Linked DNA regions of Homo sapiens. The protein of the gene in region 3 interacts with the protein of the main gene of each other region in a pairwise test. Each region holds a gene or a part of one and is shown on either strand. Other genes may lie near its edges.

What was found.
Region 1: the proteins of NTM (region 3) and C19orf47 interact in binary tests that used the Homo sapiens proteins (3 or more experiments, as listed by UniProt).
Region 2: the proteins of NTM (region 3) and QRFPR interact in binary tests that used the Homo sapiens proteins (3 or more experiments, as listed by UniProt).
Region 4: the proteins of NTM (region 3) and CCKBR interact in binary tests that used the Homo sapiens proteins (3 or more experiments, as listed by UniProt).

Annotation. Positions count from the first base shown.
Region 1 is NC_000019.10:40,345,384-40,352,718, forward strand, and holds the start of C19orf47 (uncharacterized protein C19orf47), read right to left. Parts: upstream 3,015-7,335; 5' UTR 2,941-3,014; intron 2,907-2,940; exon of another isoform or gene 1,806-2,906; intron 1-1,805.
Region 2 is NC_000004.12:121,336,017-121,343,040, forward strand, and holds part of QRFPR (pyroglutamylated RF-amide peptide receptor), read right to left. Parts: intron 4,595-7,024; coding exon 4,436-4,594; intron 853-4,435; coding exon 791-852; intron 1-790. UniProt on the Homo sapiens protein: Receptor for the orexigenic neuropeptide QRFP. The activity of this receptor is mediated by G proteins that modulate adenylate cyclase activity and intracellular calcium levels.
Region 3 is NC_000011.10:132,143,612-132,150,635, reverse strand, and holds part of NTM (neurotrimin isoform 9 precursor), read right to left. Parts: intron 4,355-7,024; coding exon 4,122-4,354; intron 1-4,121.
Region 4 is NC_000011.10:6,255,086-6,262,860, forward strand, and holds the start of CCKBR (gastrin/cholecystokinin type B receptor), read left to right. Parts: upstream 1-4,752; 5' UTR 4,753-4,843; coding exon 4,844-4,994; intron 4,995-7,775. UniProt on the Homo sapiens protein: Receptor for gastrin and cholecystokinin. The CCK-B receptors occur throughout the central nervous system where they modulate anxiety, analgesia, arousal, and neuroleptic activity.

The DNA.
Region 1 (7,335 bases), on a different chromosome or scaffold from region 3:
TCACTTCCCTCAACTGCACAATAAGAATGGTAAGGCCGGGTACAGTAACTCACACCTGTAGTCCCAGCACTTTGGGAGGCCGAAGCAGGAGGATCTCTGGAGCCCAGGATTTTGAGGCCAGCCTGGGCAATATAGCGAGACCCTGTCACTGTTAAAAAAAAAAAAAAAAAAAAAAAAACTGGGCGTGGTGGCTCACGCCTGTAATCACAGCACTTTGGGAGGCTGAGGCGGGTGGATCACCTGAGGTCAGGAGTTCGAGACCAGCCTGGCCAATATGGTGAAACCCCATCTCTACTAAAAATACAAAAATTAGCCAGGCATGGTGGTGTATGCCTGTAATCCAAGCTACTCAGTAGGCTAAGGTGGGAGAATCGCTTCAACCCGGGGCGGGGGGGGGAGAGGTTGCAGTGAGCCAAGATTACGCCACTTCACTCCAGCCTGGGCAACAGAGCAAGACTCAGTCTCAAAAAAAAAAAAAAAAAAAGGAAAGGTGGCTGGGCGCAGTGGCTCATGCCTGTAATCCCAACGCTTTGGGAGGCCAAGGCAGTGGATCACAAGGTCAGGAGTTTGAGACCAGCCTGGCCAACATGGCGAAACTCCGCCTCTACTAAAAATACAAAAAATTAGCTGGGCATGGTGGCAGGCACCTGTAATCCCAGCTACTCGGGAGGCTGAGGCAGGAGAATCACTTGAACCCAGGAGGCAGAGGTTGCAGTGAGCCGAAACTGTACCACTACACTCCAGCCTGGGCAACAGAGTGAGACTCCATCTCAAAAAAAAAAAAAAAAGTAAGATTACCAATTCTTGGCCAGCACCTTGGGAGGCTGAGGCAGGTGGATAACCTGAGGTCAGGAATTCAAGACCAGCCTGGCCAACATAGTGAAACCCCTCTCTACTAAAAATACAAAAATTAGCCAGGCGTGGTGGTGGGCACCTGTAATCCTAGCTACTCAGGAGGCTGAGGCAGGAGAATTGCTTAAGCCCGGGAGGCAGAGGTTGCAGTGATCCAAGATCGCACCACTGCACTCCAGCCTGGGCAACAGAGCGAGACCTTGTCTCAAATAAATAAATAAATAAATAAATAAATAAATAAATAAATAAATAATAAAAATAAAAAAACACCATCTTAAAAAAAAAAAAAGAGGACCCTTTTTTTTTTTTGAGATGAAGTCCCACTCTGTCGCCCAGGCTGGAGTGCAGTGGCGTGATCTCGTCTCACTGCAACCTCTGCCTCCCAGGTTCAAGCAATTATCCTGCCTCAGCCTCCCAAGTAGCTGGGATTACAGGCCCCCACCACCATGCCCGGCTAATTTTCTGTAGTTTTAGTAGAGACGGGGTTTCACCGTGTTAGCCAGGATGGTCTCTATCTCCTGACCTCGTGATCCGCCCGTCTCGGCCTCCCAAAGTGCTAGGATTACAGGCGTGAGCCACCACGCCCAGCCAAGGACCCATTCTTAAAGGTGTTACAAGGATTAAACGAGTTAATAAACAGAGTCCTTAGAACAAAGATGCACGGCAGGTGGTTAAGTGCGATGTTAAGTGTGCATCAAATAAAACAAATCTTCAGTAAGCTAGGGAAACAGTGGGACAGTCACTGACTTAATGCTAGTTTTATACAAAGTGTGAGCTGGGAACAAGTATAAGGACAACTTAATGGGGGTCCATGGGATCTGACAACAGGGAATCACACAGTACAGGTTCTGAACAGTATCCCTATTCAAAGGGAATACGTAGTATTCCTTTTCAATTATCTTTCCATTTCAGTGTACAATGTAATGGGCTGTTCAGTTTCCATTGTATTTTACCTGAACTTTTCCTTCCTCTCATGGCCAGCAATGCTAGTTTTCCATTGAAGACAGCAATGCGCCGGGCACGGTGGCTCACACCTGTAATCCCAGCACTTTGGGAGGCAGAGGCGGGCAGATCACCTGAAGTCAGAAGTTCGAGACCAGCCTGACCAACATGCAGAAACCCCGTCTCTACTAAAATACAAAAAAAATTAGCCGGGCGTGGTGGCGCATGCCTGTAATCCCAGCTACTCGGAAGGTTGAGGCAGGAGAATCCCTTGAACCCAGGAAGCGGAGGTTGCGGTGAGACGAAATTGCACCATTGCACTCCAGCCTGGGCAACAAGAGCGAAACTCCGTCTCAAAGAAAAAAAAAAGAAGAAGACAGCAATGCAAATTTGCCTTCTCAAATTAACTTACTGGGGAAAAAAATGCACTAGTCATTATCAAGAAAAAGAAAAAAACTAGTACTTCAGGACTCAGCAAAATTGGTCAAATAGTAAGTGACAGGATGTCGATTTCCCCGGCTCCAATTCTAAGTTTTTCCTATTGCTGTCTCTGAGCTTTCTCCCCCAGCTTCCCTGGAATTCCCAGCTACACCAATGACTCTCAGAATCATTATCATTATAGTCCCAATCCACGAGCTCTCACTGTGCCAGCCCCTCTGCTTAAAATCTTTACACACACAGATTTCATCAGAATCCTCAAGACGACCCTATGATATTGGGACTATCTGCTCTCATTGTACAGATGAGAAAAAACGGGGTTCAAGGAAGCGAAGACACAGGCCCCACTGCCGCACAGTGGAGCGGGACTTGAACCAAAATTCGACGGCTTCCAAACCCAACAATTTTTCATACTAAGCGCTCAAACATCAATACTAATAATAATAGTATAGTAACGAAGTGAGCGTTATGCGGAGGCGCTGAGCTAAGGCATCCAACGTACACGACCTGACTTCTCACTCCCATTTATAAAGCCGGTGATACAGTCGGATTCTAACCCCCATTCCACAGGGGAGGAAACTGAGGCTCAAAGAAACAAATCGTAAGTCCGAAGCCGTACAACGGAGCCCGAACTGAGTCCAGACACCCGGACGCCACCCGTCCCTACCGCAACCGGCCCAGTCCCACCACCCCCGGCCCGCGCCTCACCTGGCCCACCGGGCCCGCGCCCACTCGCGCCGCCCGCCCTCCCTCCCGGCGGCGCCAACTGTCAGACACTCCTCCCCCGGCCCGGGCTGCCCGCCCCGGAAGCATCCTCTCACCGCCGGAAGCTGAACTGACTCGTCCGCGGCCGCTCTACCCCAACAGGCCGCCACCAGCGAGAGTGCGGCCATAACCATCACGTGACCGCCCACCGACACCAGCGAGAGTGCAGTCGTAACCGTCACGTGACCGCCCACCGTCGGCCCGGCGCTCCCCTCCGCCCGAAGCTAGCAAGCGGCGCGGCCAATGAGAAAGGCGCATGCCTGGCCCCCGCCGGCCTGCAGTCTAGCCGTAGTGCGCCTGCGCGCGGCTAGGAGGGGCCGTCAGGCGGGGATACAGCCTGGAAGGTGCGTGTGGGGCTGGGTCTCGGAGTGGGAGACGTGGAGTGCAGGTACTGTGCGATCTGGGGGCGCGGCGCCTCGGCTACCCTCCTCGTGTTGTCTTCCACGCTATAATGCATGGAATATAATATATATTATATGGAATATAATATATGGAATATAATATATATAATTATAGCGTTGTCTTCCACGCTATAATTTATGTCGTCCTCGGTCTCTTTATGTCACCATTCCTCTCCTTCTGTCTCATCCCACTTAAATCCTCACAACTCCTTCTGTCGCCATCACCCTCTTTAAATCCTCACAACTCCTCTTGTTGTCATCAACGCCCTTAACTCGCTTTCGTTCCCTGTAAGCCCTCTTTGCCACCATAGGTCGTAATCGCTCCCTTTAAATTCGTCATCGCCATATGTTACCTGCATCCTGCTTTTGTTGCCATTTCTCCTTTATAAAATCCTCATTTCTCTTTAAACCCTCATCATACCCCCAAGTCACCTTCGCATGGCTACTGTCCCCATCGCTCTTCTTAAATCGCGCTAATGCAACTCTTACGTCATCATTACCCCTTGTGTCTTTGTCCCTCCCTTGGCATCACTGTTCCTCTGACCAGTCACCATCCACTCCTCATGCTTCCAGTTTTCCCCATAAGGAGCCACCCAGCCTTACAGTTATTTTTCTTCCCTCCGTGTCTTCGTCATTTCCCCGTGTCACATCTCACATAACATACGGGGTACTGCAGCCCATTACCTGGGGTGTGTCAGAATCCCAGCCCCACCACTACACCTCTGGATACCTTGACTGCCTTATGGCACCTTTCCAATCCCAGCTTCATCTGCAAAATGCACACGGGGACATCCACATCAGGGCTGAGTGTGACGATTCTGTGAGTTTATTCTTGTGGTAGGCTCAGCTTGACATGGTGTTTTTGGCTAATATTGTTATTAACCATGTCACCCTCGGCCGGGTGCGGTGGCTCATGCCTGTAATCCCAGCACTTTAGGAGGCCAAGGTGGGCGGATCACCTGATGTCGGGAGTTCGAGACCAGCCTGATCAACATGGAGAAACCCCGTCTCTACTAAAAATACAAAATTAGCCGGGCGTGGTGGTGCATGCCTATAATCCCAGCTACTCGGGAGGCTGAGGCAGGAGAATGGCTTGAACCGGGGAGGTGGAGGTTGCAGTGAGCCGAGATCGCGCCATTGCACTCCAGCCTGGGCAACAAGAGCGAGACTCCGTCTCAAAAAAAAATAATAATAATAGGCCAGGCGCGGTGGCTCACGCCTGTAATCCCAGCACTTTGGGAGGCCGAGGCGGGCGGATCACCTCAGGTCGGAAGTTCGAGACCAGCCTGACCAACATGGAGAAACCCCATCTCTATTAAAAATACAAAATTAGCCAGGCATGGTGGCACATGCCTGTAATCCCAGCTACTCGGGAGGCTGAGACAGGAGAATCGTTCGAATCTGAGAGGCGGAGGTTGCAGTGAGCCTAGATCGTGCCATTGCACTGTAGCCTGGGCAACAAGAGCGAGACTCCGTCTCAAAAAAAAAAAAAAAAAAAAAAACTGCATGATCTTGGGCAACTAACTTAACCTCCCAGCGCCTCAGTTACTGCATCTGCAATATGGGAATGAAAACACAAATTAATCATTCTGCACATAATTCTTAAGCATGTACTATATATGTGCCCAACACTGCTAGACACTGGGGATACCTCAATGAACAATACAGACAAAAATATCTCGGCCTGGCGCAATGGCTCACACCTGTAATCCAAGCACTTTGGGAGGTGAAGTGGGTGGATCACCTGAGACCAGGAGTTTGAGACCAGCCTGGACAACATGGTGAAGCCCCATCTCTACTAAAAATGCAAAAATTAGCCAGGCATGGTGGCGCGCCCCTAAAATCTGAGCAACTCGGGAGGCTGAGGTGAGAGGATTGCTTGAACCCAGGAGGCGGAGGCTGCAGTGAGTTGAGATCGCACCACTGCACTCCAGCCTGGGTGACAGAGTGAGACCCCATCTCAAAAAAAAAAAAAAAATCTGGCCTTATGGACTGTGTACTACACTCTAGTGGGGGTAAGAGGCAATGGGTAAATAGGTAAGTAGATTATTGGATGTATTAGAAGGGGCATGGGGAATGTGGGGTCAAGGTTATAGTTTTAAATAGGGTGGTCAGGGAAAGCTTTCTGAGAAGGTGACATTTGAAACAAATACTTGAAGGAGAAGAGAGAGTAGGGCTGGGCACGGTGGCTCACGCCTGTGATCACAGCACTTTGGGAGGCTGAGGAAGGTGGATCGCTGGAGCTCAGGAGTTTGAGATCAGCCTGGGCAACATAGCGAAACCCCATCTCTACAAAAATTAGCCAGGTATGGTGGTGTGCGCCTGTGGTCCCAGCTACTTGGGAGGCTGAGAGGTGGGGGGATCGCTTGAGCCTGGGAGTTCGAGGCTGCAGTGAGCCATGATTTTGCCAATACACTCCAGCCTGGGCAACAGACGGAGACCCTGTCTCAAAACAAAAAAACAAAACAAAACAAAAAAACGGCCAGGCGTAGTGGCTCATGCCTATAATCCCAGCACTTTGGGAGGCCAAGGCTGGCAGATCACCTGAGGTCAGGAGTTCGAGACCAGCCTGACTAACATGGTGAAACCTCGTCTCTACTAAAATTACAAAAAATTAGGCAGGCATAGTGGCAGACACCTGTAATCCCAGCTATTCAGGAGGCTGAGGCAGGAGAATCGCTTGAACCAGGGAGGCGGAGGTTGCAGTGAACTGAGATTGCGCCATTGCACTCCAGCCTGGGCGACAGCGAGATTCTGTCTCAAAAAAAGAGAGAGAGAAAGAAAGAGTGACATGGCCCTCTGGGGGAACAGCATGCTGGGCAAAGAGAACAGCAAAAGCAAAAGTCTTGCGGTAGGAGCAAGCTTGGAATATTTAAGGAATAGCAAGGAGGTCAGTGAGAGAGGAGAGGGGCAAGAGACGACATTGGAGGGGTGATGGGGCACATCGTGGAAGGCCTTGTGAGCCATGCAGAAGGCTGGCTTTTACTCCCAGTGAGGTGGGTGCCACAGGAGGATGTGGAGCCGAGGAGGGATGCGGTCCAGTGTGACATGAAGCCATCACCCTGAGCTGTGGCAGCTCCAGAACTTCTACCCAGGATCGACTAGTGAGAGGCAGCCTTATTGGAAAGAGAGCCAGAATCTTCTTCAGTCCGCACTCACATATCCTTTATGTTGGGAGAAAGTTTCAAATATCCCTGTCAAAGATCGAGACCGGGCGTGGTGGTTCACGCCTATAATCCCAGCACTTTGGGAGGCTGAGGCGGGCGGATCACTTGAGGTCAGGAGTTCGAAACCACCCTGACCAACATGGTGAAACCTCATCTCTACCAAAATTATATAAAATTAGCTGGGCGTTGTGGCTTGTGCCTGTAATCCCAGCTACTCAGGAGGCTGAGGCAGGAAAATCGCTTGAACCCGGGAGGCAGAGGTTGCAGTGAGCCGAGATCACACCACTTCACTCCAGCCTGGGCAACAGAGCAAGACTCCATCTCAGATAAATAAATAAATAGTCATAAAATTTGAGGGCAGGCTAGGGAAATGCTAACGGAATTTTTGAGAGGCCGGCGCCACCACGGGGTTCAGCTGCTGTCCCAGACGGTGGGGGGCAGGCAGCAGGGGATCTACAGATGATGAACAACAGGAGAGGCAGCTGTCATGTGGCATCTGTCCCTGGAAGCTTGAGGCAGCTTGGGTTCAAATCCTTGCTCCATTTCCTCTCTCTTTTTTTTTAACCAAAGTCCAGTTCCAGGCTTACCACATATCCTATTTCTCTTTATACCTGTGACTTCACCTCTCTGGATCCTTAATTCCCTAAGTGGGATTTTTAAGAGGACTGTTGTGAAAATTAAATATATTAAGTCCAATTTAAAAAAATAAAACAAATATATTAAGTGCTTTGAGGCCAGGCACAGTGGCTTATGCCTGTAATCCCAGCACT
Region 2 (7,024 bases), on a different chromosome or scaffold from region 3:
CTCTTATCTTAGGCTCATTTGTTATCCTTGAGGATGACATGACATGGACAGTAAAGTTTCACATTTGCCTATCTCTACTTTAAAAGGTAGAACGGGATAAATCATTTAAAACTTATCTTAGGGGGTATGTAAGCAACCCCCTACCGTCTTTGAAAACTCCTGTCTGGGTAGATCACCTATGCAAGACATGTTAAAGTCCACCCTAACAGACAGGCTGGGCTGTCTGAAACCAACTCAGCACTCTCCTTCCTGTGAAGCCCCACACATGGCTGGGCCTGTCTGACAAAGGTGTGGGGAAAGGAGAGAGGTTGATTAAGATGATCTCCTGATATGTTTCCAGTTAGAATTTCAATGTGTCAATGAATAGGAGGCAGGTAAGAAAGGACTTCTGAGAGTCAACTAAGTAGATAATTTATTACAATTTTTTTTACGTGACTTAAAAATAAAAGAAAAACCTAGAGCAATCATTCAACTCTTAAAATGTAAGAAAACATTTAGGGACACTGGGAAAAGCATACTCAGCTTGCAGGAAAATGTAGAAACTGACCTGTGTATTTTTGAAAAATTGTATTTTAAGCATTAGAGTCCTAACAATGTATCAGGAAGAGCTAGATAAAACAGAGAAAATGAACCTTAAAAAATCATTTTATTCCACTTAAAAGACCTCCAGTGGAATAGCTGAGGTCATACAAATTTGCTGTATTGCTCCTGCAGGAAGGAAAATAATTACAATTAAGAGGGGTGAGAAAATAGTTCAACAATATGATTATACATCTCAACTGGAGTCTACCTCAAGTTGTTGCACGTGCCACATGGGTGATCCTACGATGACTGCCACCAGCCAGACCACACCTGTAAAAGTGTTAAAGTCATGAGAGTATGACTCAGTTGAGTAAAACACATCCATGCATAATTATCTAACCCTCAAGATTCCCTATGAGAGGGCAGCTGTTCTCTGCCCTAGGGCAGTGCCATGGTCTCCCCCAAGTTTCATGCTTCCACTCTTTCACCATCCTCAAAACTGCTGCTGGAATAAACTTCCTAAAACAAGTTTTAAACATTTAATAGTGTTTCACTGCCTACAAGATAAAACCCAGTTTCCTTAGCATGGCCCATGAGGTTCTCTACCATCTCAATTGCCTCTCTCTCCTCTTTCATTTCTGTCCATGCTCTTCACACCGCAGTCCTCTACTGAGGAGCCTGCAGTGCTGGTTTCAGTTTCCGTATCCCAGAATGCACTGCGCCACTCCCTGGCCACCCTATCCCCAGTGTCTATCTGTGGACTCATTTTCCAGGACTTGACTCAGAAATCACCTTCTCTAGGGAAACTTTGAAGGTCACTACTATTTCCAAATAAACTGACTACTAATTCCTTGTTGTCTCTACATGCCCTCTAGTGCAGTGTCTTCGTTGCCCTTACTCACTTCTCAATTTCCTCCAAACTCCTTGAAAGCAAACACAATGCCATTTATTTTTGTGTTTCCTCAAATAAGAGTCCTAGGAAAATTCCTGGCCCTCTGTAGGAGCTGATCCATGTTGGTGGAATGGATGAATAACTTTTAAACATGACATAGACCACTCTCTGTCACCTCTTTTTAAAATCAAATGTACATTTATCTTAAGCACCATAACATGGGCATCACATGTATACATATGTAACAAACCTGTACGTTGTGCACATGTACCCTAAAACTTAAAGTATAATAATAAAAAAAAAAGAAAACAAACACTGATAACTTCAGAAACCAAAATGCTCTTTCCAAATTTCCTGTCTTCCACGAACTTGTTGAGAGGGATTGCTTTAATGATGTACTCTTAGAAAAGAAAAACAGGGATTAACTACCAAGAACAATTTCAACCCGTGTGTTTTAACAGACATGGAAGAGGACGGAACCAAGGGCCCCAACTTTGATTTGGGGGAAAAGTTTCCAGCTCGAACTCTGCTTGTTCTTTCTATATTGGGTGGAACATTAAGAAAACAGTTTATTGCTTTGGGTTTCAATGACTCAATTAAGCCATAATTGGGGTTTATTATAAAGAAACACATAATTTGGTGCTGCCTATAAAAATTCATCATGATCCAATGATACCTGGCAGCTGTAGGACTCACAAGTCTGTCTGTCTGGCTGTCTCTATTTCTCACTCGCTCTTTCTCTTTCTCTTTTCTGCCTCCCTATTACCATACACATCTGTTCTATTTTAATCACATATAGTTATCTTATGTCCAATCATTTTTCTGGGCTTTAGTACAAATTCTGGAGGAATTGAGTCTAATTTTCATAGCTCATTGACTACCTTCCTGGATCCCTGGATGGTTCTGAGATAGAAGGGCTAGAGTTGGATGAACAATACTGACACAGTGACCACATCTGGGCAAGAAAGCCTAGAGGACCTAGGCCAAGCTTGTCCAATCTGCATGTGGCCTAGGAAGGCTTCGGATGTGGCCCAACACAAATTTGTAAACTTTTAAAAAATATTATGAGATTTTTTTGCGATATATTTTTTAAGTCATCAGCAATCGTTAGTGTTAGTGTATTTTATGCGTAGCCCAAGGCAATTCTTCTTCTTCCAATATGGCCCAGGGAAGCGAAAAGATTTGACATCCCCTGTCTAGGTCTAGGCAATCTCAGCTGGAAGGAGGAATGGGGCGTGACTGACAAACACTGACTGACAAGGCTGAATGACAGTGTGACAAAGCTACAGGAGACATTAGACCACAGTTCACAAAAGCCCCCATGGCGAGATGAGTCTAGTTGATTTTAAAACCTTCTTGTTTCCTATGTCTCTTTTGAGTAGGAACTGCCTTGACTGCCTATTATCAACTATGCTTTGAGATGTTGTCACTCGCGCTACTTCTCTTTCCTTTTAAATAACTCCCCTCCTCCATGTAATCCTTTCCTTACTTGCTTTCCATCCCCACATGCTGTTTTCAGGAGTTCTGATGTTGGAAAGATGTCAATTATTAAAAGCCCAGAAATCTCTGAATTCTTAGTAGGAAAGATATGACATAAAATTAAAACTAACTAACTAAAACTAACACCTTTCTCCCCTAATGATTCAGCTATTATTTTCAAGCTATTTAAAATGACTTTGGCATTGCAAAGCCTGCAGGGGTTCTTTCTGCAATTCCACAGCCCAATACTGGCTAAATTCTTACAGCAGAAATAAATGTTTACTCATTCTTCTCAAGTGAGATATTAGTAAAAATTGCTTTATTTGATTATCACATTAGTTGCTTGCTACACCTCTGATTATTTGCTATATTAAATTCAAACTACTGTGAAGCACACTAAGGTTTTAAATGGCTCAATTATAATTACTGAATAGAGAAATGCTTCCATTTTACTGTGTTAGACTTTAGGGCATTGCTTCAAATTTACCATTTATCATGAGGTATGTGTTCATTGTGACTTGCTGACTCAGGAACAATTACAGCAAGCTGACGATCCAGAAATGCCTAAAGGAAAAGTATGAAGTGGGTGGAATGTGCCTTTGCCAGGCATCCCCAGCACTCAGAACCCACTGTTCTCATGTACCCTGTCACTTTCTACCCTTGTGTACTCACCACAAGGGCAGCAACCCTGTTCTCCACTTTTCTAAAACCACATTTCCTGCTCCCTATCATTATCAACCTGCCTGGCCAGGTGCAGTGGCTCACACCGGTAATCCTAGCATGTTGGGAGGCCAAGGAGTACAAGGAGAGGCCAAGGGGGAATGGCTTGAGCCCAGGAGTTCAAGACCAGCCTGAGAAACATAGAGAGACCCTGTTGCTACCAAAAATAAAAAAAATTAGCTGGGTGTGGTGGTGGGCACATGTGGTCCCAGCTACTTGGGAGGCTGAGGTGGGAGGATCATTTGAGCTTGGGAGGCTGAGGCTGCAGTGAGTTGTGATCACACCACTGCACTCCAGCCTGGGCTACAGAATGAGACCCTATCTAAAAAAGAAAAAAAAATCGACCTGCCCTTGTTAGCTTGGCTTGGAGTCTTCTTATCTCAAGATGATAATTCCCAGCTGGGCATAGTGGCTCATGCCTGTAATCACAGCCCAGACTTTTGAGACCAGCCTGGGCAATGTAGTTGACACTCTGTCTCAAAAAAAAAAAAAAAAAAAAAAAAGATAGTTCTCAATCTAATGAGTGTTAATGTGGCAATGCCACTGGTAGGTTATCTTAGATTAGCTGAACATAGTGCTTAAACGTTTAAGATGTAAACTGAAAAAGTATACCCAAAATGATACATTTTCAGTTTTGAGGTCAGCCTAAAAGAGAGATGGTGTGGAGATGAAGGCAAACAGGGAAAGCACTGAAACTCTCAAATTATATTCCAATGCCTACAAGTTAGATAAGAAGCTACTCTTCTAGTTTAAAAATATGGTTCTCTATTCTGTAATGAAGAATGTCATTCACACTGCCATTGGCACATCCAGTGGCCTCACCTAGCATTGTGAAAGCCCTTCGGTTGGTGTATTGCCACTTCATTTTAAAAGGATGCACAAGTCCCTGGTGCCTTTCCACAGCAATGCAGGTCATAGTGAGGATTTCTGTCACAACAGCGGTAGACTGGACAAATGGCACCATCTTGCAAATGAAAGCACCTGCAGTAAGGAAATAGGACAAATCATACATCAAAACAAAAAGAATAAAGGTTTCATCTGTGTCTTTGTAATTATCACTATCAGTCCATTCTGAGCCTCTGCCAAAAAGTTTGATAATTGTAATTACTCTGTAGACACAAAATAATTGAAAAACATTGCATTGGTTTATCTTTCTCCCTCTAACTGAACTTTATGTTCCTAAATGCTATGCAATTATGTATAATAAGACAATGAAAGGACAAATCAGTATCTAGCCATAGAAACAGTGGAAAAAAAGCAATATGACTTTTGCTTGGGGAAGAGCAAAGTCATTGTAAACTGGCCTCCTGGGCTCTACACTACAAAGTAATCTTTGATTGTCTCTTTTCTTTTGGCTTCCTGGCAAATCACAACAAAGAATAGTTCTCATCAAAGACTCCCATATTTCTTCTTTTATCATTTATTCTCCTTTGACTCCCTGCCTAAGACTTTATATATGTATTACACCATTACACACCAAACTGATTTTACTTTCTCTAATGCAACGGTCTCAAAGTGGTGGCCACTAGGCAAGTTTTGGCCTGAAAACATGCTTTATTTGGTTACACAATAGTTTAAAATATTTGAATGTATTGTCAATCTTTTAAAATGTTTATACTATCTGTCTGGCCTCTTTACCATTTGGATTTGTGAGTCTTGGTCTGGCACCTCTGGTCTTGAACCCATGCTGCTTGCTGCTACCAAATTCATCATTCCCAGCTACAAGAGGATCATAAACTCAGGGAATGTGAAGTTGGAAGACTCATCAGAGGTTATCTAGTTCTAGTTTATACCAAAAGCAGAAATTCTCTCTTCAACTTCTCTCTGAAATGCTCTGCCAAGCTCTGCTTAAATACAGGTTGAACATTTCTAATCCCAAAACCTGAAATCTGAAATGATCTAAAACCCAAAGCTTTTTTGAGTGCTGATATGATGCCACAAGTAGAAAATTCCGCATCTTCCCTCATGTGACAAATCACAGTCAAAACACACAAAATCATTTAATATATTGTATATAACTACCTTAAGGCTACGTGTGTAAGGTATATAAGAAGCATAAATGAATTTCATGTGTAGACTTCGGTCTCATTGCCAAGATACCTCATTATGTCTGTACAAATATTCCAACATCCCAAAAAATCTGAAATCTGAAACACCTCTGGTCTCAAGCATTTCAGAGACGGAATACTCCATGGGAATACTCCTTGCTTTCACAGCCCCGCTTCAGGTCTTCTCATGGCTTTTTCTGCTCCTTGGAATGCTCTTCCCTGAGATCACTACCCCACATCCTTCCCTGAAGTCTGCTAAAATGTCACTGTGATGGTTAACTCTATGTGTCCAGTGGACTGGCTTAAGGAATACCCAGATAGCTAGCAAAATGTACTTCTGGATATGCCTGCGAGGGTGTTTCCAGAAGAGATGAGCATTTGAATCAGTAGAAGACAGGAGAAGATCCTTCCTTCCTAGTGTGGTTGGGCAGCGTCCAATCCACTGAAGGCGCGAATAGAACACAAAGGCACAGGAAGGGTGAATTTGCTCTCTGCTGAAACTGGAACTTGCACTTTCTCCTGCCCTTTGACATCAATGCTCCTGGTTCCCACACCTTCTGACTCAGACTGGGACCTACACCAACAACTCCCTGGGTTCTCAGGCCTGCAAGCTTGAACTGGATCTCCACCACTGGCTTTCCTGGGCATCTAGGTGGCAGATAGTGGATCATGGAACTTCCCAGTGTCTGCAGTTGAGTGAGCCAATCCCTCATAATTAATCTCTCCTAAATATCTCTAAAATATCTTATTGGTTCTGTTTCTCTGTAGAACCCTGACTAATGCAGTCACCTTCTCAATGAGGCTGACCTACTCTAACAATCATATTTGTAACTGAGCCTGTCCCATTCCCTATCTCCTCTCATTCCTCATTTCTTTTATTCTACTCTTTTCCCATTCTCTTTCACATGTTAACATACTGATATATAATATATATGCTGCTAATTTGTTTTTTATTTTTATTATTTTATTACTGTTTTATTATTTATTTACCCCTACTAAAATATAGATGCCAGAGCAATAATTTTTGTCTATTTTTTTCGCTGATGTATTCCCAGCTTTAAGAATGGCAATACGTTAGGCCATTAATAAATATTCATTGAATTGAAAAGAACAGATGAGTAGGAGGCTCATCACTCCTAAAGGCATCCCATTCTATTTTAGAGAGGCCCTAATTGGAAAAAGTGCTTTTAAATTCCACTCATTCCTAGCTTTGTTCTCAGAGTCTCAGAACTAACCAACTATCTTTTCCAAACAGTGGCTCCACATGTATTTGACAGAAGCCTTCATGTCACTCCTGTCTTTCCTAGTTGTCGCAGCTGTTTCTCATTTGCTATGCTTTTCAGAACTTTCAAAAAGGTGAATG
Region 3 (7,024 bases):
AGGAAATCCATTACTCCATCTTTTTCAACAATTCTCTCTTGTTTTTAAAAGAGCACCATCTATTTAAAATTTCCATTCTCTTTCCAAAATTCCACTCTCCTTTCCACAATATACCTAGCCCTTCAAGCCATGGAAAGCCATTCTAGCTTTAACACCTGCTGATCCATAATGGTAACCCCTTATAGCACTATCCAATAAAGCTTTTTACAATGGAAGTTCACACAAATGTTCTCTCTCTGCACTGTCCAACACAGGAGTGCAGTAGTTTGGGTATTTGTTCCCGTAGATCTTATGTGGAAAGTTGATTCCAAAATTGGAGGTGGGGGCCTAATGGGAGATGTCTGGCCATGGGGATGGAGCATAAATAGATAAATGCAGGGGGTGGGGCAAGTGAGTTCTTGCTCTATTAGCTTTCTCGAAAGCTGGTGGTAAAAAAGAGCCTGGCACCGTCCCTGCTGTCTCTGGCTTTTTCTCTCACCATGCAATTCTGCATATACTGGGTCCCCTTCACGCCATGCCACGAATAGAAGCATTCTGAGGCCCTCTCCAGATGCAAATGTTGGTGCTGTGCTTGTACAGGCTGCAGAACCATGAGCCAAATAAACCTCTTTTTTATGTGTGTGAATTACCAGCCTCAGGCATTCCTTTATAGTAATGCAAAATGAACACAAGGGAACAGTAGTCTTGCATGACTATGGAAGCACTGCAGTGTGGCTAGTGTGACTGAAGAAGTAAATTTTAAATGTTGTTTGGTTGTAGCTAATTTAAATTTAATTTAAAATAGCCACCCTGGCAAGTAGCTACTTGGCTCAGTTCTCTTGTCTCCTCCTTTCTGCCGCCTTCCCCCTCCATCTCCCTCCCACACTGGCTCCAGGGTCACCCTCCTCCCCCAGGATGCCCTTTGCTCCTAGCTTGCCCCAGAGACTTGCTCCATGTGGTCGCCTTGGCCTCACGGCTGTCTGCAAGAAATAACCATATTGGATCAGAACCACAGGGGAAGAAAATCCAGTACAGAGAACTAGGGGGTAGATGGGATATTTGACAGTAAGGGGAAAGACATACCCCAGACCTGAAGCAGCTTGTGCAATGCTGTGAGATGCCACTACCTTCCTTCTGTGTGGATTTATTTAGATATGAAGGTGACTACATATACATAAATACACATACTCATGGGCAGAATATCAATTTAGTTCCTTTTTGTTGTTGCTGTTTTTATTTCTTTTTTTAAAGGATCATAATACCATTTTGAAAACCTAATATGCCCAACTTTTATTCCAGAAGCTCAGGGCTGAATAGCAACTTCAAATCCAGAGAGTCAGCTTCTGCTAGGGGAATTAGGGTTTATGTTTGGTATAATAAACGATCCCAAGATAAATATATTTCTTTCCCTTTTTTTTTTTTTTTGTAATCCAGGATGGTGGTGCATCCTCTTTCCAATACAGAAACACAAGAATCTGGCTCTATTTAGTTTGTCTGATCGCTTTGAAGAGGGGGTCAGTTTGGCTCTGAAAAAACTATGGTCCTCTATTCATTAAAGTGTCGATAATACTCAGTCCAGGCATATCGACAGCGGATTAGCTTGGGCTGAGTCTGTGTAAAAGACCAATGCCTTTTTTAACCCAGCTTGTTTCCAGATCAATACACCCATCAGCATTCGAAAATTAGCCCAAGATGAGATTCCAATACTTGAGGTGGTGTGTCATGCGAGAGGGCACCTAGCTAAGTCACAGATGTAAACACCTAGCAAGGGATTAGACATTTTCCATTAGCTTGGATGTGAGTGAAGATTGATGTAGACTCCATCCTCTCACCCCCTCCCATCATCTCACCCCCAAAAACACCCAGCCGTCTCTCTTGGAGCCCATATAAGATCACCTGGCTCTAATTCTAGCCATTTGCTTCAATAAGCATTTATTAAATGTTCACTTTGTATCAGGCATTCTGCGAGGTGTTCAGGGCAGGGGTGTGGGGGTGTGTGTGAGTGGGGGTGGCTGAAGAAAGAAAATGACAAAAATATGATCCAGTTTTCAAGGAGACATTAGCACTTTTCACAATTCCTTCCACTTTCCAGTTCCATGAGGCCCTGCTTCCTAAAGCAAATATCTCTAATAGTTCCTAGTTCCCAGTCTCTCATTGTCAATGCTAGGCATTCTTTTCTCAACACTAAGTGTGCAGGGGTTGGGGCAGGACAGGAGGGGGGCTGAGCAATAGCTTCCAAACCACCACCTGGTAGAGTATGCAGATGGTGGCACCAGGGCATTCACCAGCCCTGCCCACAGAGTGGAGATTCTCAAGCATTTTTGGCCTCCCTATCCATAATAAAAAATGTATTTTACATTAAAAAATGTACACAAACTGAAACAAAAATCTCACATGGCAATACCTACTCCACTCTTTGTAATACACTCTGATACCTTCTATGCAATTCTATTTTCTTTAAAATTGCTGTTTGCATGCATCAGTTCAAAAAGTATTCATTTATAGAATCATTTTTTAAACAGCCATTGTAATTTCCTTTGGGGAAGAAAGAGTAAGCAAAATATAATAAAAACTTGGCATGACCAAACTTGGGCCACAGCATCAAGGATTCCCATGTCCCCTGGCATACGTTCTGCCCACAGCCAGGTCCAGCATCACCTTGTTCTCATGTGTCCTCCTCTCAGTCCTGCTCACCCTGCCTCACTCAACAGTGCTGATCACGACCCAAGTTCCGCCTTCCCCTACTGTCAAACAGCAGGCCTCCCCTTCCTTCTTCCGGCTCACTTCAGTTCTTCCTTCTCAAGCTGCCTTCCTTCCTATTCTGTCTCTAACCAATCATCCCATAGTTCTTTACCCTTTTCTTGAACACACCGACAAGGGGACTGGTGGAAGGAGCCCCTAGGAGAGGAGTTTGTCACCCTGGAGCTACACGTCCCTGGTTGAAAGGGCCTCGGGATCAGCCTGGGAAAGGGCTCCAGCACTGGATCTGGCATGCCGCTGCTCAGGGGCTATACTGCTGACATCACAAAATAAGATATTTGACCCACTGTAAAAGATGCTCAAAAATTTTAAAAATTACAAAAGTCCTAAAAAAGAGAAAAGAAAGCTCCATAGCTAACACTGAAATAGCACTTGTATGTGCCACGCCCTCTTCTACGTGTTTTCTATGTCAGTACGTTTACAGTTCAATCCTCACGTTGACCCCCTTTACAGAAAGAGAACCCTGAGACACGGTAATAACTTGATTAAGGTCTCACAGCCAGAAAGTGGCCAAGTGTGATGCCAGCTCTTGCTCACTAACTAGGAATCCTTCAACCGGGTTAAGTGTTGTCTGAATGCCCCAGGACTGGTTCTGCCTTGTGGGAAGAGGTGAGCTCCATTCCCAGGGTCTAAGAGAGCATAACCAACACACATATTCTCTCTCTCTCTCTCTCTCTCTCTCACACACACACACACACACACACACACACACACACACACAAACATACAAGGCCTCATGAACTAGGAGTCAGGGGAGGAGAAGAAGGCCAGGAGAGTTGGGATGGAATCAAAACAGGGAGAATCAGACACCAGTATTATATGGGAGAAATGGCATCCAAAACCCCTGGCTGGGAGAGGAGAGGAGGCGCAAGTGAGCTGGAAACAAGCAGGTGCTTGTGAAGGATGCAGCTGAGGGCAGTGCCCAGTGCATCCTGGTTGGCTCTGCTTTCGTTCAAGGCTGGAGGGGGACATGGCATACCTGTACTTCCAAAAGTGCATTAAAAGTCTGGTTTTAAACATAACACAGTCTTGGAATTGGATGAAATCTAAAAAACAAAACAAAACAAAACAAAAAACAAACAAACAAAAATAACTAAAACTTAGGGGAGAAAAAAGCCAAGAAGAGCAATAATTACAAGATAATTTCCTGAGAAAATATATTATTGGAACAAAAATGAAAAAAACAATTCCTAGTTCCACTCAATGAAAATGACTGGAAAATTTAGCTTCTAACTGCAAAATGACAACCAGAAATGTGCCCTGGACCCCAGATGCGTAGAATAAGGATAACTCATCTCTGTTGAGGATCAGAGAACAAACCTTTACCTGAAGGCTTTCCAGGCTGGCCAGCCAGATCTCCCCGCCAAGCCCCGCCCACCTACCTTGCACAATGAGGTGGACCCTAGAGGTCTTTGGGTGGTTGTCTGTCTGCACCGAGCAGGTGTAAGGGCCCTCGTCATACACATCCACGTTCTGGATCTCGATGCTGTACTGCGTTTGGGTGTTGCTCAGAAGGACCACGCGAGGATCCAGGCACCACTTGTCATTCCCAGCATAGAGGATGGTGCTGCGGTTTAGCCAGGCCACCCGGGTGACCCGGTTGTCAATAGTGCACCTGAAGGGAAGACCAGACAGGTACGTCAAGGGACTGAGAGACGACAGCAGCCATCAGAGGGAGGTCCTCATGGCAAGGCTAGAATATCTTGTCTTTCTCCCTTCCCCCAACACATACATTTCCTTTGATTTGTCAGGGGTGGACTTTTCTGGAACACAGCAAAGGTCTTATGGGATTACAGCCTCAGAATGTTGCTCGGAGCTTCTCAAACCACTTGAGCACAGAACCACTTCAAATACGATCTCAGTTATAACCTAGAGGTACCTTGCATGCCCAGGATGGCTGGATACTTCGAATACTACCAGTTCTCCCTTTGCTCAAGGATTTGGGTGATGATAATCCTTCATAGTTATGTCTAGCTGTTTAGGGTGCACTAAGTCATTCAATACTTATAATAACCCTATGAAGAATCTTTTATTGGAAAAAGCCTAGAAGAGCAGAGAAACTAAACTAAACTAGTTCTCCAAGTCACACAATAATTATGTGTTAGATCAGAGACCCAGCTTTTAACTACTAAACATCATTCCTCTCATCTCAGAATAGCAAATTCCCACAGAAGGCTTCTGCAGTCAAAACTAAATACAGACCACCACTATTGCTATTCATCTTCATTATACCCAGGGGCAGAAATGTTCGGTTAACTGCTAGACTAAAGCCACTTTCCAAAATCTCAAAACTGTCTGCACATATAAAAATAGATTTTCTTTCTTTTATTTTTGCATCTGGAGTCCTTGAATTGTGGAATCTCCCTTCTCTTTTCTACACTTTTAAATTTCCCAGCAACTCTCGCCAAGTCCTCATCATGTCTTTCTGTCTGTATTCATTTCCCTCTCTTACTACAGCAAGTCTGTTCCATGGCCTTAGGCTAAATTTACAAGCAGTGTCCTGATCCTGACTATAATGCTGGAAATAACAATGTAGCATAGGATGTATAATGATGTCTCAAATGTATACATTATTTTGCAGTGTACAAAGCACTTTTACAGCTCAATGTCTCCTTTGATGTTTTGCAACAAATTTATGAGGTTGACACTCTTACCCATTCTCTGCTTTAAAGATCAGGACACTAGGGTTCTGAATAGCCTGATGACTTGTCCAAGGAATGAGAGCTAGAAGTATAGAAGTCAGACCTCTCAGTCAAGTCTTCTAATTCCTGGTACTATGTGAGACTCATAATGTGCAAAGGTGAATTTTTCATTGAGGATGGGTGATGGCTTCTATTGGATTCTCAAAATGGTTTGTGACCATAAAAATTCTAACAAGTGCTACTATACACACCTGCTTCTTCAGGAGACCCCCTGTCCCCATGAGACATCCTGTACTGTGCATCCTTTCTGCTTTGCTTATGTAAATGTCTCAACATTATGTAAGGATCACTTAGGTGCACAGGGATAGTTTGCTGAGAGTTCTTGTGGGAAATACTGCCCAAAAAGAAACACCTTGGCACAGGTGTCCAACAAGTTTTTTGCAGCTCATTGCATTTTCTGGCAATGCAGATGAGAGGTGGGCTCTCTCTGGCACCATCCTGATACAGCATGGAAATGAGTGAAGGCCTAGCTTGGAGAAGATCTGGGGACTACCTTTCAAAGTGCTCATGGACTACTTATATTAGAATCACAGGAGAGGTTTATTACAGATTCTTAGTCTCACCCCCAGTCTACTGATTCAGAATATTTGGGAATTTATAACAACATCTCAGTTGGGTCATACACACACTAATGTTTCAAAACCACTAATATGGAGCAGTGTGTCTAGGACAACTTATATCATTTATGGGGCCCAGTGCAAAATAAGAACACAGAATATTTTGCTCAAGCATGAATAAGGATTTCAAGGTGGTGAGAACACAGCCTTAAACCAACCACAGATTTCTATGGAAATAAACAAAGTTGTGAAGCCAGCTCCACATGTTTCTCAAGCTTTACGGTGCACATGAGCCCCCTGGGGATTTCGCTGAAGTACAGATGCTGATTCAGTAGGTCTGAGGTAGGGCCTTGGATTCTGCATTTTTAGCAAGCTCCCAGGTAATGCCAAAGCTGATGGCCCCTGGTCATTCCTTGAGTCACATCTAGAAGTTCATATCTAGACATGAGTTTTGTGCACATTAGGGTTTAAGAAGCACTGAGCTAGCACCACACTACACAAAAGTGTGGCTGGCAAACCACCAACATCAGCATCACTTGGGTGGGAGCTCATCAGAAATGCAGAAACTCAGGTCTCCTCTCAGAGATAAGAAATTTGAATCTGCATTTTAATAAGATGTCCAGGTAACCTGAATGCACATGAAGTTTGAACTGATCCAAGCCTTTCTTGTGGCTTTGATGACAATATCCAGAATGGACTCTGAGGGTGAGCAAGAAGGAGAAAACTACAGTCGATAGAGGGTGCACCTCTCTTACTACACCTAAGGGTGTACCTTCCCTTATGCTCCTTGCAGACCCCATGACTGCCATCTGGTACTGCCTTGTCTGAAACATGAATTTGGAACGACATAAGTTTGAAATCTCTCAAGAACAAAAACACACTTTGCAGCTTGCTTTGCTAGTAATGTATCTAGGATAGCTTATATTAATAATCTGAAGGGTGGCCACTGCTCTGACCTTCACTTGGGTCCAAGCAGGGACTGGATGAATTCACATTCATGGTCAATGTTAATTGACTACATGAGCC
Region 4 (7,775 bases), about 130 Mb from region 3:
ATTTTGGACCACATTTCTCATTCCTCATTTTGCTTACCCAGGAGCAGCATTTGAATGAGTTCACCAGTTTCTTCTTGCACCTCTTCTCTTTTAGCTTTTATGATGCTTCACTCTCTGGGTTTCCTCCTGTCCCTCTGTCTACTCTTTCTTGGTGTCTTTTGCAGGCTCATCTTTCTCTATCCAGTCTTTAATAATGACCTCTAAAAGTCTGACTTGATCCTTCATTTGTTCTTATTCTACACACTCTAATTCTGTGGTTTGCATTACTTCCTATATGATCTGTATATTTAGCTTCCTAATGGAATTCTACTTAGGTATCTAATAGACATCTGAAACTTAATATGTCCAAAACAGAACAGATTTGATGGTGGGAGTTTCTCTGTGCTAGTTACTATTTTCTCTATGAAGTTGGAGTCTAGGTTGAGAGTGAAGAATGCTCTGTGTCTCTGTGTGTGTGTGTGTGTGTGTGTGTGTGTGTGTCAGGGTGGGAGAAGAAATTAGAGATTTTATGAGACGAGAAAATTTAAAAACAATATTGTGTAAAATGAGAGAAAGAAGGTAATCAGGGAAATTTGGTAAGACATCTACTCATTCTAAGCAGCACAGTATGAACAACTGAATTCTGATTTCCAAAATCCCTGACTTTGACTTCTGGCTCTTTCACCTAGTAGCTTTGTGGCTTTGGGCAAGTTACTTAAACTCTCTCTAAGCCATAGTTTTTTCATCTAAAATAGTGATCAACAATATTGGACCTAAATTCATGGTTCTTCATGAAGATTAAATGTACTTACAGGTAATGTGCCTTGAACATCATAGGTGATCATCAAATAGTTTATATTGAGTTACCAGAAACCTTATTCATTTTTTATCTCATCCTTCTTTCTCACCCTCCACATGCAAATTATCTTTAAATTCTGTTTCTACCTCCTAGATAGGTCTTAGATCAATCTTTTCCACTACGTCCATGACTTTAGGTCAAGCCACTACCATCTCTCACCCAAATTACTGTCATAGACTCCCAATTGGTCCCACCTTTTAAGTTGCTCCCCACACTAACTCCACTGCAATCTTTCCAAATCTTTCTAAATCTTAACAAATTTCCAATGCTCCCAATTCTTCCTTGCATGGCTTGCAAGAGTCTGCATTTGCTGCCTCATGAGATAGAAGGTGTATGATTTGTCTGTTGCTGTTGTAATAAATTACCATGAATGTAGTGGCTAAAAACAACACCCATTTATTAGCTCACAGATCTATTGGCCAGAGGTCTACACAGTGTGGCTGGGTTCTCTGCTCAGGGTATCAGAAATCAAGGTTTCAGCCAGACTGAATTCTCTTCTACAGACTCGGGGGAGGACTGAAGTCTCTGTTCTTTTGCTGGCTGTCAGCTAGAGACTGCTGTCAACTAGAGGCCACTCTCAGGGCTTGTCCTGTGCCCTCCTTCACCCTCGAGCCAGAAAACAGCCACCATTCGTTCCTTGCCACATTATCCCCTCCATCTTCAAGCTATCAACAGTGTGTTGAATTCTTCTCATTCTTCCAATCTCTTTGATTTCCTCTTCTGCTACCAGCAAGAAAAAAAGAACCCTTGGCTTTTAAAGAACTCATGTGACTTGGTTAGGACTAGCCAGATAATCTGTCTATCTTGAGATCAACTGATTAGTAGAATTAACTCCATCTGCAAAATCCCTTTTGCCATATAACATAATTGTGGGAGTAGTATCTCATCATATGCACAGGTCCATCCACACACAAAAGAAGATTATATAAGGGTGACAGTCATTGGTGGTCATCTTCTAATTCTGCCTACCCAAGGAGAGGAAGCCAGGGGAAATATCCCTGAAGAATCGTAGCTTGAGCTGAGATCAGATGGATGAGTAAGTGTTAACTAGGTAAGGAAGGAAAGAAGAAGCTTCCAGAGAGCATATGGAAAAGTCATGCAACTGAAGGACATATAGCAAAAAAAAAAAAAAAAAAAAAGAAAAGAAAAAAGAAAAATAAAAGAGAAAAAAGAAGGAGTGACCAAAAAAAGGCTAATGTGTTTACAGTGGAGAGAATAAGAATCATTGTGACTCTTATTTGAAATAATGTGATTTGAAATAATGTGGCTAGAGAGGTAAGTGGGAGCCAGGCCTCACAGGCTTTCTAAATTCTGTTAATATGTTTTCTCATTCCCAAAAGCAAAGGTCAAAAGAGTGGGATAGTCAGATTTGTATTCTGAGCATAGTACTTCGGCTTTAAGGTGAAGTATAGATGTAGAGAGGCATCAGTAAAATGTGGTGGCCCATTTAGGAGGTTAGGAGTGTGGTTCAAGAGTAGGGTAATATCAGTGGACATATAAGCAGGCAGATTCAAGGAACACTCAGTAGCTAAAATGAACAGGACTTTGTGATTGATTCAATATGGGAGTGATGTAGTTATGTTCCCCAGGAAGCAGACTCTCAAACAAAGATTACTGTGGAGGATGTTTACTAAGGAGCGTTCTTGGAGTTAACACCTGTGCAAGAGAGAGGATGAAAATAGGATTGGGCAAAAGGAGAAGCTGAGTAGTAATTCAGTCCCAGCAAAGACCTCAGTCAACCATATGAAGGGTTCTAGGGGTGTGAGCATCTTTCAGAGTTGTCCACCACTGGGTTGAGGGGATTAAACTTTTATACCTCTGTGCTGATCGGTCATTGGATATAGAATGCCCAAGAAAGGGAGCATAACCTTGGATGAGCTGGCTTTCTTCTGCTTAGGCAACTCCTGAAGGGTTATGACAGCTGAGGGCCATCTTTTAGGAGCACTCTCCACAGCTGGAAAATAAATCCTCCATTTTTGAAGAGGGTTCTGGGCTTTGCATCACAGCATCCAGCGCAGGGGTGAAGGAGCATAGGGGAGTAAGGCATCAATAATAATTCCTAAATTTCTGATTTGTACATCCTGGTGGGTGCACTTAACGACCATATATTACAATCATTGGCTTGCTTGGGAAAATCCCACTAGAGTAGGTGCTACTGAGGGGCAAACTATATTGGACAACTAGTGCATACCCCTAGAACTGGCATAGTTTGCTAAATAAGTGAATGTCCATCTATTTCTATTTTCACTCCCCTCTCCCTTACATCCTTTGCTCCCTTCCCTCCTCATCGTACTGTCATCCAATGTGGGAAAACTTGAGCAGGTTATCTGAGGCCCCACCTGTGCTGGAGCGGAACAAATAGCAAATCAAGCTCCTCTGGTCCAGGCTCTCTGATGGGCAAGACAGGCAGTACCAGGAGGAAGGAAAGGGGGAGCAGTTGATGACATCTCAGGCATAAACTGTCTTTCAACTCTCTTTCAATGCTTCAGCCCCTATAAACTCAGGGCTGGCTGAACCAGGTCCTCTCCAAAAGATTAATTGGATAAGGGCCTGCTGAATCCCCCATAAAGCCAGACTCCATTCTCTAATTTGCTCTTCCACTGATGCCCGCCCCCAACCTCTTACAGCTACTGCTGGGGGTCAGAAGAATTTCACATCGTATTGGAGTTCATCCGGAATCTGAAGAATGGATAGGAATCTGGAGATAGGAATCTGGAGATAGGAATCTGGGGAAGAAAAGGAATGGATAGGAGAATGCATAGGGAGCAGGGCTGAAATAGTAGAAGAGGCAAATCCTGCCCCGAGAAGCTGAACCCAGTTCAGTCCTGCACCCTTCAGCCCTGTTCCCGCTGCACCGCAGTGACCCAGTCCCCTTCTAGCCCCCTCTCGTGGGAACCTGACACCCTACACAGGCAGCTCTGCCTGCACTGAGAGCAAACAGGGAGCGTTAGCGTGTCGGGTGGGCGTGGGCGCTGCCTGGAGACGGTGGAGAAAGCCAACCTTCTCCTTCTCTTTTGCCTGCGCTGGGCCGGCGTTAGAATTATATCCCATCCTCACCTTACTCTGGTTTATCCTTGTCAGTGCTTGCCACCACCCCCAACTGCCCTCAACACTCAAGTCAGAAGCTTCCTCCCGGGAGCCCTTTTCCCTGGCAAGGCTTCCCTGGAGCCAAATCTCGGCCCCGGCCCCACCCCCACTCCCGCCCAGCTGTGGAGGGCTCCTTGGGACCCTTAAGTGCAAGCCTGAGTGTTAAGCCTCAGACAGGAGATGGAGGGTGCGGAGACAGATGCAGGAGCTACCCCAGGCCCGCAGCGAGGAGCTGCAGGGAACTACGGTAGCAATAGTGTCACGGTCACTGCGGCCACTGCAACACAGTACGGTAAATGCGGCTCTAGGCTCAGACTAAAGCATCCGCGCCTCAGCAGGTGACGCACGCAGACCTGGTCTCCAACGCCACCTCCACGTTCCCTGATACACCAGAGAAAGATGCTGGATCCGTGGCAGCCGTCTCTACCCAACCCCTCCTACCCTCCCTTCCCCGAAACCTCCCCCTACGCTGCCAATACTCTTGTCTTCAATCTCTCTCTCTCTCTCTCTCTCTCTCTCTCTCTCTCTCTCTCTCTCTCATTCCTGGGAATCGGGGGTGGGGGCGGGTGATAAAGAGAGGTGGGCAGGAGAGAAATCTCTAAGAGGAGACGGGACACATCTAGGGAGGGGGCGAGCCTGGAGGACAGTCGCACAGGGAGGGGCAGAACTCCCGAGCCAGGGAGGGGGTGCACAGTCACCTGGCGGGACAGAGGCTGGCGGAGGGACGGGAACCCAGGCGGGGCGAGCCGCGGGAGAGTGGAGGGCAGGCGCCTGGGCTGGGGGCGGGGACCAGGCGGGGCAGGGGGCAGGGAGAGGAGGGCGGCGGGAGCCTGAGCCGGAATCGCAGCGTGAGCAGGTGGAGCCGCGTTGGGAGCCCGCCGGGTCGAGCTGAGTAAGGCGGCGGGCTCGGCGGGGGCCATGGAGCTGCTAAAGCTGAACCGGAGCGTGCAGGGAACCGGACCCGGGCCGGGGGCTTCCCTGTGCCGCCCGGGGGCGCCTCTCCTCAACAGCAGCAGTGTGGGCAACCTCAGCTGCGAGCCCCCTCGCATTCGCGGAGCCGGGACACGAGGTGGGTGCCTCCCTCAGCCCCCCCCACAAGCTATTTCTCACTGTACCCCAGAACACTAATAGAGTCCCCCCAACGAGCTCCACACTACCTTCTCAAACGTCCACACCGTGCCTCTCATAGTACTCCCTCAGCCCCCAAACAGCTCCCCTCACACCTTCACCCCCACAGCCTACAACTTCATCACAGCTTCACACCACCTGGTCGGAACTCCTTCACATCCTGGTCCCCTGAATACACCTAGAGCCCCTGCTCACCCCAAAGCACAGCCCCTTCCCCAACACGCAGCCCCTCCTAGACACCAGTCAGAAGGCGAGGACCTCCTCTTGCCAACCCTGCAGATCTCCTTTTCCCTCTTACATCCAGTTCACAGAGCCACAACAGAGAAGGGAAGGAAGAAAGGAAGGCAGGACTGGGAAAAGAAGGGGGCTGGTTGAGGGAGGGAGCACTCTGGAAAGCTTGAATGCGAAGCTGAAGTTGTGATCACATCTGACACCCCAGCCCCCAGCCATCCCAAAAAAGATCCTCAAATCTGAATTAGGCTGGACACTAGGGGATGCTCCTTAGAGCTGCCTGCCTCCATTTCACTCCTTCTCAAACCCCTCTGCCTCCCTAGTTGGAGCTTTCGAGGCTCTGTGCCCTCTCTCTTTGTCTGCAAGTAATGTCTCCAGCTATCTTCCAAGCTCTCTCTCCAGCCCTAGGCTAGGTGCTGGGGGCACAGGGCAAACTAGACCCAGTCTGGACCCTCATGGCCCATAGCCAAGTGCAGAGAGAAACCAAGCAAATGGAAAAATCACAGACACAATGGAAGTCCCATGAAAGGGTCTAAACTGTGGGCACCAAAAGAACTTCACAGAGGCTAGAACCTTAGAGCTGGGTCTTGAAGTTGAGTAGGCAGAAAAGGAAGGAGTGGGATTCTAGGTGAAGGAGCAATGTTAAGCAGAAGGAAATTTTTCTAAACTCAAAAAGGGAAAGTTGGAATAAATTGTAATCCAAGTATTTATTTACCCCACGAAATAATCTATGCTTTCTCAGCCGAGTTGTTACACACTCACACTTGGATTCTGTCATTCAGCCAATATTTATTGAACCAGAGATTGTGCTAGGCAGTGGGAATGTAAGTTGAACAAAACCGACACAATTCCTACTTCACAGAGCTCAAAGTTTAATGGGCGAGACAGAAAAGCAGGGGATTGCAGCACAAAGTGGAAGAGCCTTGACAGGGAAAAGATAGTGGGAACACAAGTGGAACACCTCTAGCCCAGCCCAGCCTCCTTGAGAATTAAAGTTGGCCTCTTGAGGAAATGAGCTACAAAGTCAAAAAAATTAGGGAGGCTGGCTCTAAGCTTCCTGTTGGCAAAAAAAAAAAAAAAAAAAAATATATATACACACACACACACACACACACACACACACACACACATATACATATGGGAGAGCCAGCCAAGTGAACGGGCAGAAGAGGCAGAAAGCATCCCAAATAAAAGGACAAGATGTATAAGAAGCTCAAAGTTTGAATTCATGGCACTTTTATCCACTGTGACATAGTTTTGAGTGACTAGAACATATATCTTAAGAAGGGAATAATGAACAGGCTGGAGACCAGCCTAGAGGGTTTGCAGAGAGCCTGCTAGGCCTGACCATGGAACATGGACTTTCTCCCGAGGGCAATAGGAACTACTAAAAGATTCGGTAGTACTACCAGGATTAGTTCTATAATGTGGAGAACGGATTGGAAGACATAAGATGGAAGGCAGGGGGATACTTTACAAGGTTACTATATTACACTGTTCTGGGTGAAAGATGATGCTAGCTGAGACTAAGGTAATGGCAAGGGAGATGGAGAGAGGTGGATAGATTTGAGAGCCTCTTCTGGAAATGGAATCAACAGATTAGAAGCAGAGAGGATGGAAGAGGTCAAGGGATGACATTCAGATTTCTAACTTGGACAACTGAATGGATATTGGTGCTATAGCAATTGTATACAATGAGAAAGATAACAAAACAGCAGAAACAGGTTTGGAAGAGGGAATTATAAATTCAGTTTGGAACCCATTGAGTTTAAATGTTAGTGGGGCATCCAGGTGAGGTTACCTAGTAAGCTGTTGAATCCAGGGGTCTGGAACTTACAGGAGAGGTCTGAGGTGGAAATACAGACTTGAAGAAGGTCTTTGCCTACAGGATGTAGAAGCCCCGAGAATAGTTAAAATCATAAAATTTTGTATAGAATGAGAAGAAAATAGGTCCTAGGTCAAGACTCTGCATAAGACCATTATTTAAAAGCCAGGCAGAGAAAGGAGAATTTATGAAGGAGATTCAGATGAAACCATCAGAAAGGCAGGAGCTACGCCCTTCCAGAAAGCAAGAAAAAGAGAGTTTCAAGCAGGTTGGGGTAAGTGATATCAAATGCTATTGACATAAGTTACATAAATAAAAAACAGGACAGTCAGAACAGCATCCTTCACATTCAATAACAAGAAAATATTTAGGAGTTGTAGGTATTGAGGCTTGACTATGGTAGGTTAAAGATTGGACTGGTGAGAGAAGGAGTTATGAGAAGTGAACCAAGGTATGTAGCCAAAACTTTCAAGAAGTCTGGTAGGCAAAGAAAGAGAGAGAGAGAGAGAGAGAGAGAGAGAGAGAGAGAGAAAGAAAAGCAGGATATTGCCAAAAATAGCATGAGATTGAGGAAGGGGGGAGTGGGTATGTGCATAGGTTTGTTACGTGTGTGCGCGTGTGTGTGCACGCATTTTAAAACAAGAGCTTTTTAAAATGTTTGTTGGT